2 separate regions of the Homo sapiens genome follow, and region 2 is linked to region 1. The links come from fine-mapping of genetic effects on gene expression. A gene starts in region 1. The other region holds a variant in brackets. All regions are shown on one strand. Distances are between the middles of the regions. Region 1 holds the start of CNTRL (centriolin). Region 2 overlaps CNTRL (centriolin).

Region 1 (8,335 bases):
GAAATACTGTAATTCACAGCAACACGGATGGAAATGGAAGACAGTATATTACGTGAATAAGCCAGGAACAGTAAGTTAAATGCCACATGTTCTCAGTCATATGTCGAAGCTGAAAAATGTTGATCTCATAGGAGTAAACAGTAGAACAGAGGATACTAAAGGTTGGGAAGGGTAGCAGGGGGAAGGGAAGGAGAGAAAGATATCTTAAAGGATACAAAATTATAGCTAGATAGGAGCAATAAGTTCTAGTGTTCTATACTTACTATAGGATGAGGATAGTTAACAATAATATATTATATAGTTTCAAATAGCTAGAAGGAGGGTATGAAATCTTCCTAAAATAAACATATGATGTTTGGGATGATGGATATGCTAATTACTCCAACCACTATACATTTATATGTATTAAAACATCACTATGTATCCCATAAATATGTACAGTTACTACATGTCATTTAAAAATAAAAATTAAGGTTGGGTATGGTGACTCACACCTACAAACCTAGCACTTTGGGGGACCAAGGCAAGCGGATACTTGAGGCCAGGAGTTGAAGACCAGCCTGATCAACATGGTGAAGCACTGTCTGTACTAAAAATACACACACATACACAAAAATAGCTGGGCGTGGAGTCACACACCTGTAATCACAGCTACTGGGGAGGCTAAGGCACAAAAATTGTTTGAACCCTGGAGGTGGAGGTTGCAGTGAGCCATGATCGTGCTACTGCACTCCAGCCTGGGCAACAGAGTGAGACTCTGTCTCAAAAAAACAAAAACAAGAACAAAAAACAAAACACACCAACAAAAACAAAAAAAAATAAATGAATAAAAATTAAAAAAAAATCAGGCTGGGCATGCTGGCTCATGCGTGTAATCCCAGCACTTTGGGAGGTTGAGGTGGGAGGATCGCTTGAGCCCAGGAGTTTAAGACCAGCCTGGGCAACACAGCAAGACCCCATCTTTACAAAAAGTTTAAAAATTAGCTAGGTGTGGTGGTGCACACCTATAGACTGAGCTATTTGGGAGGCTGAGGGAGGAGGATCACTTGAGTCTGAGAAGTCAAGGCTGCAGTGAGTTATGATTGTGTCACTGCACTGAAACCTGGGTGACAGAGTGAGACCTTGTCTTAAAAAACAAAACAACAAAATCACACTGGCCAGTCACAGAAAGAAATGGCAATAATGAAAGTTGCCATCCCTGTCTGACAAACTAGTCTGTTTCTTCTCTAAAACAAATTCGCAAAATGATTAAACTGGGTTGCAAAAAGCTGAGGGAAGTTTAAACAGAATAGCTTTGCTATCATTTGGAAAAAAGACTGAGTAAAAGCTTGGTCACCCTGACGTGGCTAATATTTGTATTGTAAATGCAACTCAGAGTACATTCTTCATAATATCAGATAAAGAAAAATAGTGTGGAACGCGAGTTGTCTGCGTTACTTTCGTATTCTCACTTCTGCTTTGGAGAAGGAAGTTCTTTTAGCATGCTAAGAGAGACAGTTAATATTCAAATTAACTGGAGAAAGGTCTCTCCTTTGAAGTCTCTAGCTTCGTTAGAGATGATGCTAGACACCAGCAGAGGTCTGTATGAGGAGGAAAAGGGGGCAACATGGGACCGGTGAGTGCCCATCCGCGGCTAACTGGATACGGACTGAGAGATCACCCAAGAGAAAAGTGTTTTGCGCCACCCTCTGGACTTTTTATGTATATTTGATGGCTATTAATTGATACTAATATGATTGATAATGAACTACATCAGCACACCACGGCTTGATAATGGATCCCACGTGAATACCATTACAGACTTTGAGGGACACAGCAATGAGGTTACGCAATAAATCTAAGTTTCTGGGTACAAGAAACCGAAACGATGGGTGTCAAAACATATGCAAATAGAACTGAAACTCAGCAACGTACACATTCCAATCTAATAAATATCACCTGAACTTCGATTAAAAATGAATGTAATCTCGGCAGGGCGCGGTGGCTCACGCCTGTAATCCCAGCACTTTGGGAGGCCGAGGCGGGCGGATCACGTGAGGTCAGGAGATTGAGACCAGCCTGACCAACATGGTGAAACTCTGTTTCTACTAAAATACAAAAATTAGCTGGCCTTGGTGGTGCGTGCCTGTAATCCCAACTCCTCGGGAGGCTGAGGCAGGAGAATCGCTTGAACCCGGGAGGCGGAGGTTGCACTGAGCCGAGATCCTGCCACTGCACTCCAGCCTGGGTGACAGAGCCAGACTCTGTTCAAAAAATTAAAAAAAAAAAAAAAAAAAAGAAAAGAAAAAAAATGAATGTAATCTCCTCTTAAGTGGAGCTTTTCAAAAATTCTGCGTTTAAACTCCAAGGGCTTCGTTCTGTGTCGTGTAAATAGTTGGGGAGAGGACAGCACCATTCACTTAAATGTCAATGGGAATCACATTTAAGTAAAAGGAAAAGGAAATCAGTAAATCAAAGTAAATCAAAGACACATCTGCATCCCCATGTTTATTGCAGCTTATTCCCTGTTGGACGTCCCCTGAATTTCCTATAGAGGTGAAGCCATCTCTGCCTTAAGGAAAAATGAAGTGCCTAATACTGCTTATAATATGGTCCCTTTTCCAGATTTAGCTTCTCCACCCCAGATTTTTGCACAAGCCATACTGAACTACTTCATGTTTCCATACTCATGTTTTGTTCCAGCCACACTGAATTACTTAACATTCAGCACATTGCCAAGCTCTTTTCCCCCGCTTCCGGGGTTTGCACAAGTTGTTCCCTTTGCCAAGCAAATTCTTCCCCACCTCCCTACTCCTTGCCTAAACTCTTCTTTTGGGCGTAGAAAGAAGTATTGCTTCTGGGTAACCTTTGTCTAATAATGAAATATCTAAGACATATTGAGAACTTACTATGGGTCCCTCACTGTTCTAAGTTCTTTCACAGAGATTCACTTTTATAATTATCAGGAAAACTGGACTTTTTTTTTTTTTTTTTTTTTTTGAGATGGAGTCTCGCTCTGTCGTCCAGGCTGGAGTGCAGTGGCGCGATCTCGGCTCACTGCAACCTCCGCCTCCCGGGTTCAAGCGATCCTCCTGCAGCCTCTCAAGCAGCTGGGATGACAAGCGTGCGCCACCACGCCCGGGTAATTTTTGTATTTTTAGTAGAGACGGCGTTTCACCTTGTTGGCCAGGCTGATCTTGAATTCCTGACCTCAAGTGATCCTCCCACCTTGGTCTCCCAAAGTGCTGGGATTACAGGCATGAGCCACAGCGCCCGGCCAGGATTCACTTTTATAATTATCAGGAAAACTGTAGGAAGTGTTAATAGGTAAAAGGACCTCATTTCATAGATAAGGAAACTGAGACACAGAGAGAGAGGGAGTTTCTAAAAGTGTTATACAGGTGGCCTATAAACTCTGTAGTGAAGAAAGGAAATGAAGACAGGATAGAATGATCGCGAGAAAATGGTAAGAACAAGGGACTGGAAGACGCAAGGAAGTTTAGAAATACGCTGGCATAGGGGTCTTTTGAGCAGGCACGCTGCTAAGATGATAGGATTATAGTCAAGGATGGGGAGCGATTGCACTGGGGATTTCTGGAGCGGGTGCAGCCTCTGATGGTAACATGGTCCAGGGTATACCTTCAAAACGGGAGGCTACTGGAGTGAAAGGCGTCAATGGTGATAACACTTTAAAAAAAACTTCAGTGTTTCCCTAGCATCCAGCCCAGTATCTGCTAAATTCTTTAAAATATCTGTTGAATGCATGTCGTGAACGCCGTGCTCATGGGCAAGCCCCAGATGAAGCCTGTGCAAGTGCTTCTTGCTTTAACTCCCTTGTAGCAATCAGAGGAACATCCTCTGCCTAGGATTCCCAAGCTCCCTGAACCTCACGCGACAGCTGGAGCCCAGGCTGCGTCCGCTTTGAGGTTCATCCGAGCCTGGGCAGTTCGGTCCCTGGAGGGAATTCGCTTTAGATACGACTGTCAGAGAGAAGTGTGCTGATAAGAACACTCGCTCATAGCGCGCAAGCATCAGAAGTGGGGGAGGCCGGGGAGGCGCTGCGCCGGTGCCTCAGGCCGTCCTCGGACACAGGCCCTGAGAAGCGTGTCCGTGTTTCAGAGGGTGGCGGCGGCAGCTTTGTCTCAGCGAAGGCCACAGCACTGCGGGCAGCTGCCGCATGAAACCTCGGCTCCCCCTGACTCTGCACCCGACACTTCACCTGCAACGCAATCCGAAGGCGAAGGCACCGCATCCCGTCGGCCCCGCGCGGCCGGAAGCCTCGCGCCCAAGACTCCCCGGCATCCTAGCGCGCTGGCTGCAAAAGAGGCGGGAAACGCCTCCGCGTCCCTTCCAACAGTACCGGAGAGGGAGAGGGGCGTGGCTGAGACTAGCCCCGACCACGCGCGCGCGGCCCCTCGGCAACCGGCACAACACAACAAAATGGCTGCCGCGCCGCTGGGCCCCTGAGGAAAGAGCCCGAACTTCTCCCGCTCTACCTCAGCCTGCGGGACTGCTCGGCTCGGCTTCTAGGCGGTGAGCGTCAGACCTGGCCGAGCCCGTTCCCCGGCATCCGGCCCGAGCAGTGGGGGCCGGCGGCAAAGGCGGGAAGGCCCGGACCGGGCGTGGTGTGGGCCGGCTTGGGATGGATTCGGGGCGGGGGCGCGTGTCTGGGAATTGGGATTGGACGGGAAAGAGGGGAGGGCCCGGAACGGGCGTGGGGCGGTGGATGAAGGAGGGAGGTTTGGATGGGAAGAGGTGGGGACGGCGGGGGCGATTGGGGATGAAGAACCAGAGTGTGGGGAGGTGTGGAAGTTAGGGTGCGGCGCCCAGAAGGTTGTGGGTCCTGCCACCTGAGCTGAGGGGAGAGCTGGGATGTGCCAGCTGTCTGTGGGGAGTGAGCGGGAGAAAGGACAGTTTGGGCGTCCTGACGGGTTGTCACGGTATCGGACGGAGTACAGTGCGTGGAGAAAGATGACAGGATATGGGGACGAAATGCTAAAAGAAGGGGAAGAACAAACACTTCCGTTATATTCGTTAAGGGACTAGAGAATTTTGAAGCCAGACAAACTTGGGTTGAAGCCTCAATTCTGCCACCTTGTGTAACTTAACCAGGTCTGTGACCCTGGATATGTGTCTGAGCCTTCCTGATCATGTTTCCTCATTTGTCCAAATAATTGCGAATCATTTTTGGGTGTTCACTATTTGTCAGATCCAGTTTTAAGCACTTTGCACGTATTAACCTCATTTAGAATTTAAAATAACTTGTATGAGGTTATCATCCCCATTTAAAAAGTGATAGCACTGAGGACCAGAGAGGTTAAGTAATTTGCCTAAGATCACACAGTAAGTGGAAAATCAGAATTTGAACTCAGGCTGTTTCGTTCCAGAATCCAAGCTTTTAACTGTTCAGGTACATTGCCATTTGTAAATCAGGTTAATAATTCTGATCCTATACAGCTAAATCTTTGAGGATTTAAATTTGGTATTGTCTAAGTGTTTAGTACAGTCCTTCAGTCAACAAATATTTATTGTTTATAGAACAACAGACAAAACCTCTGCTCTCTTGTAGCTTATAGTCTAGAAGGAGAAACAGGCAACAACCAAGTAGTTTCACAAATAATGGTTATAAAATGCTATGAAGGAGACTGCTTGGTGCAGAGATCATGGGTAATAGGGAGATAAAATCTTCTGCATCTTGAGCTTAGATTCTAGCATGGTTCTTCCTACATAAAAGTTGCTCAATAAAATTGAATAATTAATGGAAAGAGATGGGAAGCTTGAGTTTTAGGGTATCTGAGCAGAAGAAGAGAGATGGGAGAGGGGATTCAGGCTTTTAATAGGATGGAGAAGGATACGGGGGCTAGAGTATTAGGATGGAAAGGCAAATAGGCAGGCAGTTGGGTTGGGATGAAGAGGAATGGATGGAGGTTTGAGTATTTTGTTTAGGGAGGGGAGTAATTGGAGGTCAGAGTATTGGAACGCATTAGGATGTCAGGGTATTTTCTGGGGTGAAGAGAGATGAGCAGCTTGGGAAGTCTGGATGGATAGAGAAATGTTGAGTCTGGGCACAGGAAAGAACCATAGAGAAATGGGGGAGACTATTACTGTGTTAGGGAACTGGGATAGAATTTGTGGGAAAATTGGCAATCAGAATGGGATAAAGAAGAATGGGAGGCAGAGGTGGGTGGGCAGCACAGAATGGGGGAATTGGCTTTGGAAAGAAAAATGGCTGGAGACTTTGCAGAGGAATCGGAATCAGGATATTTGAAAGGAGGAGAAGATTAAGGAGTAAAAGTATTTCAGTAGGTCAGAGGGTATGGGATGAAGTAGACTTGGAAAGTACTGAAATCCAATTAAAGGGCTAAGGAGAGGGATATGGGGGTTAATAAATGGGGATGGGTATTTGCATATTAGGGAGTCTGTAGAGAGACAGAAGGAGGTCTGCGTTATTTGGAGATCAGAGAAGATGGGAAGTTAGGAAGGTTAGGAAAGGCTGGATGGAGGTGGAGTTTGCAGTCTGTACTAAGCTGTGATGGACTGAATTGTTAGATCAGAGCAACTATCTGGGTTTATAGGTGGCAGGATGGGTAGTGTTTTGTTGCCTGGACGTAGGATTCTGATTATCATGTCATTCCAATGGCTTTCTCTTGCTCTGCAGACAGCCTTTAAAATACAACTGCAGCTCTGAACTTTATTTGCTTTTTTTTTCTCTTTATCCTGCTCCTTTACTCGCCCTAGCCTACCTCTCAGTTGTCTTCATTTTTCCATTGCTTGCTTGGTCTTTGTTCATGTGATTGCAAACAACATCCTAGATCAAACTACATCCTCATCTCTCCATTAAAATTATAATTCAGCATTTACCACCTCCAGGCAGTAGCCTAAGAAATAATGCCAGCCATTCTCAAACACTGTAAACCCCTAAGCCCACTTCACTGAGTTAGCTATTCTCTGAGACTGATTACGTCTATCTTGTTTCAGTGTCCAAGCTTTACAGAAGCTGTGGCAACCAAGGGTTTAAGTCTATGAATGAGTAAGCCTGACTTTTACTAATCAGGAGAGGTAATAAAGGACCTCATGATAGTCTGGTGAGACCTAAAGGGTCTTGATCATTAGGATGTAAAAACTACAGGCTGGGCACAGTGGCTCACACCTGTAATCCCAGCACTTTGGGAGGCTGAGGCAGGAGGATCACTTGAGCCCAGGAGTTCAAGACCAACCTGGGAACTATAGTGAGACCCCCCATCTCTACAAAAAATAAAAAATTAGCCAAGCGTGGTTATATGCGCCTGTAGTCCCAGCTACTCAGGAGGCTGAGGTAGGAGGATCACTTGAGCCCAGGAAGGCAAGGTTGCTGTGAGCCATGAGCATGCCACTACACTCCAGCCTGGGTGACAGAGAAAGACCTTGCCTCAGGGGGGAAAAAAACGCCAACTACGTACTATACATACTATAATAAATGTCATCTTTTAATCCATTTAATTAGGAATAAGATTTTACCTAAGCACATGCCTCTTAGCTTTTCTCAAATTTTAGAGTATTATCCTTATTTAGAAGGAGAATGCCAGTGCAGCTTAGCAGCATCAATAGTATTACTGAGGGCTGGGCATGGTGGCTGTAATCCCAGCACTTTGGGAGGCCGAGGTGGGTGGATCACCTGAGGTCAGAAGTTTGAGACCAGCCTGGCCAGCATGGCAAAACCTCATCTCTACTAAAAATAAAAAAAATTAGCCGGGCGTGGTGCTGTGCACCTGTAATCCCAGTTACTCAGTAGGTTGGGGCGGGACAATCACTTGAACCTGGGAGGCGGAGGTTATAGTGAGCCGAGATCACACCACCGCACTCCAGCCTGGGCAACAGAGCAGGACTCTGTCTCAAAAAAAGAAAAAAATAGTATTACTGAGACTACAGATTAAACTCAATTTCTCCCACTATACGCTCACAACATGATTCCGTAGGATTTTCCCCCACACATTAAGCAAGCAGTTAGTTCTGCAGTGGTGGGCACCACAGGACTGTCCTCTAGTTCAGTTCAATTCTGACACTGTCTACCTGGAGACAGCGTCACATCCCTAAGGTTGAAGGCTGGCTTACAAGACTGCCCCCAAGTTCTGATGCCAACTGTAAGCCTCAGTTTTACCTGTGCTTCTGACTGACCAGCTATAAATCAGAGTTCCCACAACTCCCTCCTTGGGTTTGATTAATTTGCTAGAGCAGCTCACAGAATTCAGGGAGCACTTACTTACATTTACTGGTTTATTATAAAAGATATTACAAAGGATATAGGTGAAAAGATGCATAGCGTAAGGCAGGTGGGAAGGGGCGTAGAGCTTCCACACCCTCTCTGGGTGGATTCCCC
Region 2 (8,335 bases), 54 kb after region 1:
CAGTTCACCTATTAGTACTAGTATTTGATAGGGAAATATTTACAGGATACCCAAAAGTAGTTAATGCAATTTTAAGAGTTTTGTTTTTGTTTTGTTTTGTGGCATTGATGCCTAGTGAGTCAGGTCATTCCAGTCAGTAGGCCAGAAGTCAATACGTGATCATGATAAGCTCTGGCATGTGATTGTCTATGACATAAAATCCATTCAGGAGCAAAGCACCCATTGGCATCAGGGAATTCAGTGTCTGGTTATAAGAAGAAAGAGTTTTAGGATCTAGTTTTGCAATGCTGATTTAAACTGCGACATATCCATAATAGTGGAAAAGGAAGACAATAGGCCATAGTGGTTTTTACACATAGGGCTCAGTGTAAAAAGATCCTGCTCTCTGTTTTGCTACTGTCAGCTGTGTCGCCTTGGACAAGTTGTTTTTATCTCAATCATTAGTTGTTGGGAGAATTAAATGAGCTAGTATTCATAGGCCAGGAGTGGTGGCTCACGCCTGTAATCCTAGCACTTTGGGAGGCTGAGGCGGGCATATCATTTGAGCCCAGGAGTTCGAGATCAGCATGGGCAACATGGCGAAACCCCGTCTCTACAAAAAAAAAAAAAAAAAATTAGCCAGGCGTAGTGGTATGTGTGCTTGTGGCACCATCTGCTTGGGAGACTGAGGGTGGAGGATCACCTGAGCTCAGGGAGGTTGAGGCTACAGTGAACCGTGATTGTGCCACTGCACTCCAGCCTAGGTGACAGAGTGAAACTTTGTCTGAAAAAAAAAAAAAAAGAGAGAGATAGTGTTCATAAAGTTCCTGGCACATAGTGCGTATCCAGTACTGTACATGGGATGTGTGTGTTTGTGTTCTAAGTGTTTAGGTTACACATTTATGTTGCCAGTCTTGGATTCATCTTATATACTAGGTGGTCTTGTTCTTTGTATTTAGCAGCAAGAACTCACAGTTTTGGTACATATTTTTTATTTTATTTGTAAATTAAACTTTTTTTTTTTTTTTGAGACGGAGCCTCGCTCTGTCACCCAGGCTGGAGTGCAGTGGCGTGATCTTGGCTCACTGCAACCTCTGCCTCCTGGGTTCAAGTGATCCTCCTGCCTCAGCCTCGTGAGTAGCAGGGACTACAGGCACATGCCCGGCTAATTTTTTGTATTTTTAATAGAGACGGGGTTTCACTGTGTTAGCCAGGATGGTCTCGATCTCCTGACCTCATGATCCGCCTGCCTTGGCCTCCCAAAGTGCTGGGATTACAGGCTTGAACCACCACACCCGGCCGAAATTAAACTTTTTACAGCATGAATCAGGCATTTTATAAGCATTGCCCCCTAAATGTACTATTTTTATTTTATACCTGCTTAATACTCCTTTGCTATCTATAATAGGAAGAAAATTTAACATTATGTTTTGAAAAAGAAAAATGATAGGAAAGAATTGAAAGCTTAGAATTTCACTCTTGGCTTATAACAAAATGCTGAGCAGACAATGCAGTACTTTAAAAAGATATATTATTACCCTTTTTGCATCTTGCTTAGGCCAGATAGCAGCAAATGAAGCCCTGAAGAAGGATTTAGAAGGTGTTATCAGTGGGTTGCAAGAATACCTGGGGACCATTAAAGGCCAGGCAACTCAGGCCCAGAATGAGTGCAGGAAGCTGCGGGATGAGAAAGAGACATTGTTGCAGAGATTGACAGAAGTCGAGCAGGAGAGAGACCAGCTGGAAATAGTTGCCATGGATGCAGAAAATATGAGGAAGGTATGATTTTTTTCCTGCCTATTTTCCGTAGCTTCATAAGTAGATAATGTCCAAATTAAGTTAGTTGGAGGAGGTAACAGTACATTTTTAAGTGGGAAAAAGTATTAGTGGCTATATGGTGATTTTTTTCTTTTAACAGTTGGGCTTTTTTTTTTCTTCTTTAGCTGTGATACATTTGGAATTATTATTTTTTCTTTGCTCAGAAAAGGAAGATTATTTAAGCTGCATTTCTATCCCTGAAAGGTATTGTTGCCAAATAACTCTAAAGAATATGAAATGGTAGCTATTACAAATATTGTATTAAATGCTCATATTTTATTTGTGCTGAAAAATTGAGCACAGAATGGTTTTTCTTAGTCTTGTTGTTACTGGATAATTTTAACATTATTTTATAGCTAACAAAACAGACATATTGTTTTAAATTATATCCTTATGAACCTGATTTGTTGCACATTCGTTTGGAGATTTCCCTTGCTCTATTTTAGTTGTTTGGAAAATGTTATCATACATGAGAACTAGAGATTTCCAAACTTCTTGTTCAGTAGAGCTGGCTCCAGAAATTGAATTAATATATTTTAATATTATGAAATATCTCAGGCATATTTAAAAAATCACAAATAATATTTAACATCATGTACTGACAACCCAGCTTAAGAAATAAAACATTATAGGTACATTTGAAATCCTCTGTCTACTCCTTTCCAGAAGTAACAAAGTTCTGAATATGGTTATTATTTCCCTGCACCTCTATTCTTTTATTATATATGTAAACATCCATAAGCAATATATAGTATTTTCCTTGATTTTAAGACTTATACAAAATGTATCATAGTGTACATATTTGGCCACTTTCTTTCTTCCTTCATGTTTATGTTTTTGTTTGTTTGTTTTGGTTTTTTTTTGAGATGAATTTTCGCTCTTGTTGCCCAGGCTGGAGTGCAGTGGCGCAATCTCGGCTCACTGCATCCTCCGCCTCCTGGGTTGAAGCGATTCTCCTGCCTCAGCCTCCCGAGTAGCTGGGAGTACAGGCATTCACCACCTGCCCGGCTAATTTTGTATTTTTAGTAGAGATGGGGTTTCTCCATGTTGGTCAGGCTGGTCTCGAACTCCCGACCTCAGGTGATCCGCCTGCCTTGGCCTCTGAAAGTGCTCGGATTACAGGTGTGAGCCACAGCGCCTGGCCTATGTTTTCGAGAATTATGCACACTGATAGATGTAGTTCTACTTTGTTCATTTTTACTGATATATGTACCATCCTGCTTTATGGACATACCACAAATTTATTATTTATTCCTTCTCTTTTTGGGGTGCATTTAGGTGATTTCCAGTGTTATGCTATTGCAAACAATGCTGAGCATAACATTCCTGCACACATCTTGAACACATGGGGACTATGCTCAGAAGCAGAACTGTGGGTCAGAGTATGTCCATCCTTCATTAAGTTCAGTAGATATTGTCAAATTACTTTTCATAGTGAGTTTATCAGCTTCTACTCCCACCAGCAATGTGGGGGCTACCATTCTTGCCACATCCTTGCCAACGCTGTAGTGTTGTCCAACTTTTTTTTAAAGCTTATATTTTGAAATAACTCCAAACTTGCAGGAAAGTTGCAAGAGGAATACAAATAACTCACATTTGCCTTTCACCGAGAGTCACCAATTACTATTTTAACACATTTGCTTTATCTCCTCATATGTAATTTCTACATGATTTTATATACTTTTTAATTATTATTATACTTTAAGTTCTAGGGTACATGCAGATTTGTTACATAGGTATACATGTTTCACGTTGGTTTGCTGCACCCATTAACTCGTCATTTACATTAGGTATATCTCCTAATGCTATCCCTCCCCCCTCCCCCCACCCCACGACAGGCCCCGGTGTGTGATGTTCCCTGCCCTGTGTCCAAGTGTTCTCATTATTCAGTTCCTACCTATGAGTGAGAACATGCGGTGTTTGGTTTTCTGTCCTTGTGATAGTTTGCAAAGAATGATGGTTTCCAGCTGCATCCATGTCCCTGCAAAGGACATGAACTCATCCTTTTTTATGGCTGCATAGTATTCCATGGTTTATATGTGCTGCATTTTCTTAATCCAGTCTATCGTTGATGGACATTTGGGTTGGTTCCAAGTTTTTGCTATTATGAATAGTGCCGCAATAAACACATGTGTGCATGTGTCTTTATAGTAGCATGATTTATAATCCTTTGGGTATATACCCAGTAATGGGAT[C/T]GCTGGGTCAAATGGTATTTCTAGTTCTAGATCCTTGAGGAATCGCCACATTGTCTTCCACAAAGGTTGAACTAGTTTACACTCCCACCAACAGTGTAAAAGCATTCCTGTTTCTCCACATCCTCTCCAGCATCTGTTGTTTCCTGACTTTTTAATGATCACCATTCTAACTGGTGTGAAATGGTATCTCATTGTGGTTTTGATTTGCATTTCTCTGATGGCCAGTGATGATGAGCATTTTTTCATGTGTCTGTTGGCTGCATAAATGTCTTCTTTTGAGAAATGTCTATTCGTATCCTTTGCCCCCTTTTTGATGGGGTTGTTTTTTTCTTGTAAATTTGTTTAAGTTCTTTGTAGATTCTGGATATTAGCCCTTTGTCAGATGAGCAGATTGCAAAAATTTTCTCCCATTCTGTAGGTTGCCTGTTCACTCTGATGGTAGTTTCTTTTGCTGTGCAGAAGCTCTTTGGTTTAATTAGATCCCATTTGTCTATTTTGGCTTTTGTTGCCATTGCTTTTGGTGTTTTAGTCATGAAGTCCTTGCCCATGCCTATGTCCTGAATAGTATTGCCTAGGTTTTCTTCTAGGATTTTTATGGTTTTAGGTCTAACATGTAAGTCTTTAATCTATCTTGAATTAATTTTTGTATAAGGTGTAAGGAAGAGATCCAGTTTCAGCTTTCTACATATGGCTAGCCAGTTTTCCCAGCACCATTTATTAGTGATCCTTTCCCCATTTCTTGTTTTTGTCAGGTTTGTCAAAGATCAGATGGTTGTAGATGTGTGGTGTTATTTATTTCTGCAGTCTCTGTTCTGTTCCATTGGTCTATATATCTGTTTTGGTACCAGTACCATGTTGTTTTGTTTACTGTAGCCTTGTAGTATAGTTTAAAGTCAGGTAGCGTGATGCCTCCAGCTTTGTTCTTTTTGCTTAGGATTGTCTTGGCAATGCAGGCTCTTTTTTGGTTCCATATGAACTTTAAAGTAGTTTTTTCGAACTCTGTGAAGAAAGTCATTGGTAGCTTGATGGGAATGGCATTGAATCTATAAATTACCTTGGGCAGTATGGCCATTTTCACGGTATTGATTCTTCCTACCCATGAGCATGGAATGTTCTTCCATTTGTTTGTGTCCTCTTTTATTTTGTTGAGCTGTGGTTTGTAGTTCTTGAAGACGTCCTTCACATCCCTTGTAAGTTGGATTCCTAGGTATTTTACTCTCTTTGTAGCAATTGTGAATGGGAGTTCACTCACGATTTGGCTCTCTGTCTATTATTGGTGTATAGGAATGCATGTGATTTTTGCACATTGATTTTTGTATCCTGAGACTTTGCTGAAGTTGCATATCAGCTTAAGGAGATTTTGGCTGAGACGATGGGGTTTTCTAAATATACAATCATGTCATCTGCAAACTGAGACAATTTGACTTCCTCTTTTCCTAATTGAATACCCTTTATTTCTTTCTCTTTTCTGATTGCCCTGGCCGGAACTTCCAACACTATGTTGAATAGGAGTGGTGAGAGAGGGCATCCCTGTCTTGTGCCAGTTTTCAAAGGGAATGCTTCCAGTTTTTGCCCATTCAGTATGATATTGGCTGTGGGTTTGTCATAAATAGCTCTTATTATTTTGAGATACGTGCCATCAATACCTAGTTTATTGACAGTTTTTAGCATGAAGGGCAATTGAAGTTTGTTGAAGGCCTTTTCTGCATCTATTGAGATATCATGTGGTTTTTGTCATTAGTTCTGTTTATGTGATGGATTATGTTTATTGATTTGTGTATGTTGAACCAGCCTTGCATCCCAGGGATGAAGCCGACTTGATCGTGGTGGATAAGCTTTTTGATGTGCTGCTGGATTCGGTTTGCCAGTATTTTATTGAGGATTTTCACATCGATATTCATCAGGGATATTGGTCTAAAATTCTCTTTTTTTGTTGTGTCTCTGCCAGGCTTTGGTATCAGGATGATGCTGGCCTCATAAAATGAGTTAGGATTCCCTCTTTTTCTATTCATTGGAAGAGTTTCAGAAGGAATGGTACCAGCTCCTCTTTGTACCTCTGGTAGAATTCAGCTGTGAATCCATCTGGTCCTGGAGTTTTTTTGGTTGGTAGGCTATTAATTATTGCCTCAATTTCAGATCCTGTTATTGGTCTATTCAGAGATTCAACTTCTTCCTGGTTTAGTCTTGGGAGGGTGTATGTGTCCAGGAATTTATCCATTTCTTCTAGATTTTCTAGTTTATTTGCATAAAGGTGTTTATAGTATTCTCTGATGGTAGTTTGTATCTCTGTGGGATTGGTGGTGATACCCTCTTTATCATTTTTTATTGCATCTATTTGATTCTACCCTCTTTTCTTCTTTGTTAGTCTTGCTAGCGGTCTATCTATTTTGTTGATCTTTTCAAAAAACCAGCTCCTGGATTCACTGATTCTTTTGAAGGGTTTTTTGTGTCTCTATCCCCTTTAGTTTGGCTCTGATCTTAGTTGTTTCTTGCCTTCTGCTAGCTTTTGAATGTGTTTGCTCTTGCTTCTCTAGTTCTTTTAGTTGTGTTGTTAGGGTATTGATTTTAGATCTTTCCTGCTTTCTCTTGTGGGCATTTAGTGCTATACATTTCCCTTTACACACTGCTTTAAATGTGTCCTAGAGATTCTGGTATGTTGTGTCTTTGTTCTCATTGGTTTCAAAGAACATCTTTATTTCTGCCTTCATTTCATTGTGTATCCAGTAGTCATTAGGAGCAGGTCGTTTAGTTTCCATGTGGTTGAGTGGTTTTGAGTGAGTTTCTTAATCCTGAGTTCTAATTTGATTGCACTGTGGTCTGAGAGACAGTTTGTTGTGATTTCTGTTCTTTTACATTTTTTGAGGAGTGCTTTACTTCCAACTATGTGGTCAATTTTGGAATAAGTGAGATGTGGTGCTGAGAAGAATGTATATTCTGTTGATTTGGGGTGGAGAATTCTGTAGATATCTATTAGGTCTGCTTGGTGCAGAGCTGAGTTCAATTCCTGGATATCCTTGTTAACCTTCTGTCTTGTTGATCTGTCTAATATTGACAGTGGGGTGTTAAAGTCTCCCATTATTATTGTGTAGGAGTCTAAGTCTCTTTGTAGGTCTCTAAGGACTTGCTTTATGAATCTGGGTTCTCCTGTATTGGGTGCATATATGTTTAGGATAGTCAGCCCTTCTTGTTGAATTGATCCCTTCACCATTATGTAATACCCTTCTTTGTCGCTTTTGATCTTTGTTGGTTTAAAGTCTGTTTTATCAGAGACTAGGATTGCAGGCCCTGCTTTTTTTTGCTTTCCATTTGCTTGGTAGATCTTCCTCCATTCCTTTATTTTGAACCTATGTGTGTCTCTGCACATGAGATGGGTCTCCTGAATATAGCACACTGATGGGTCTTGACTCTTTATCCAATTTGCCAGTCTGTGTCTTTTAATTGGGGGCATTTAGCCCATTTACATTTAAGGTTAATATTGTTATGTGTGGATTTGATCCTGTTGTTATGATGCTAGCTGGTTATTTTGTCCGTTAGTTGATGCAGTTTCTTCCTGGCATTGATGGTCTTTACAATTTGGCATGTTTTTGCAGTGGCTGGTACGGGTTGTTCCTTTCCATGTTTAGTGCTTCCTTCAGGAGCTCTTGTAAGGCAGGCCTGGTGGTGACAAAATCTCTCAGCATTTGCTTGTCTGTAAAGGATTTTATTTCTCCTTCACTCATGAAGCTTAGTTTGGTTGAATATGAGATTCTGGGTTGAAAATTATTTTCTTTTAAGAATGTTGAATATTGGCCTCTACTCTCTTCTGGCTTGTAGAGTTTCTGAGAGATCTGCTGTTAGTCTGATGGGCTTCCCTTTGTGGGTAACCCAGCCTTTCTCTCTGGCTGCCCTTACATTTTTTCCTTCATGTCAACCTTAGGGAATCTGACAATTATGTGTCTTGGAGTTGCTCTTCTCGAGGAGTATCTTTGTGGTGTTCTCTGTATTTCCTGAATTTGAATGTTGGCCTGCCTTGCTAGGTTAGGGAAGTTCTCCTGGATAATATCCTGAAGAGTGTTTTCCAACTTAGTTCCATTCTCCCTGTCACTTTTCAGGTACACCATTCAAACGTAGATTTGGTCTTTTCACATAGTCCCATATTTCTTGGAGGCTTTGTTCATTTCTTTTTACTCTTTTTTCTCTAAACTTCTCTTCTTGCTTTATTTCGTTAATTTGATCTTCAGTCACTGATACCCTTTCTTCCACTTGATCAAATTGGCTACTGAAGCTTGTGCATGTGTTACGTAGTTCTCATGCCATGGTTTTCAGCTCCATCAGGTCATTTAAGGTCTTCTCTACACTCTTTA

Evidence for each region. PIP is the estimated chance that this variant, and not a neighbour inherited with it, causes the effect.
Region 2: its variant is fine-mapped to the expression of CNTRL in whole blood (INTERVAL, PIP 0.96).

Annotation. Positions count from the first base shown.
Region 1 is chr9:121,070,556-121,078,890 of GRCh38, forward strand. It overlaps CNTRL (centriolin), which reads left to right and starts at 4,400. Exons shown (of 44, transcript NM_007018.6): 1 at 4,400-4,512. It also overlaps a transcript of C5 not described here. RefSeq lists enhancers at 1,572-1,621, 3,975-4,364 and silencers at 3,664-3,860, 4,485-4,544, 4,665-4,804.
Region 2 is chr9:121,124,179-121,132,513 of GRCh38, forward strand. CNTRL (centriolin) reads left to right here. Exons shown (of 44, transcript NM_007018.6): 14 at 1,538-1,758. Among named protein-coding and RNA genes, the nearest start is that of CNTRL, 53 kb to the left of the region's middle. The variant C/T (reference allele first, on the strand shown) is at 3,993.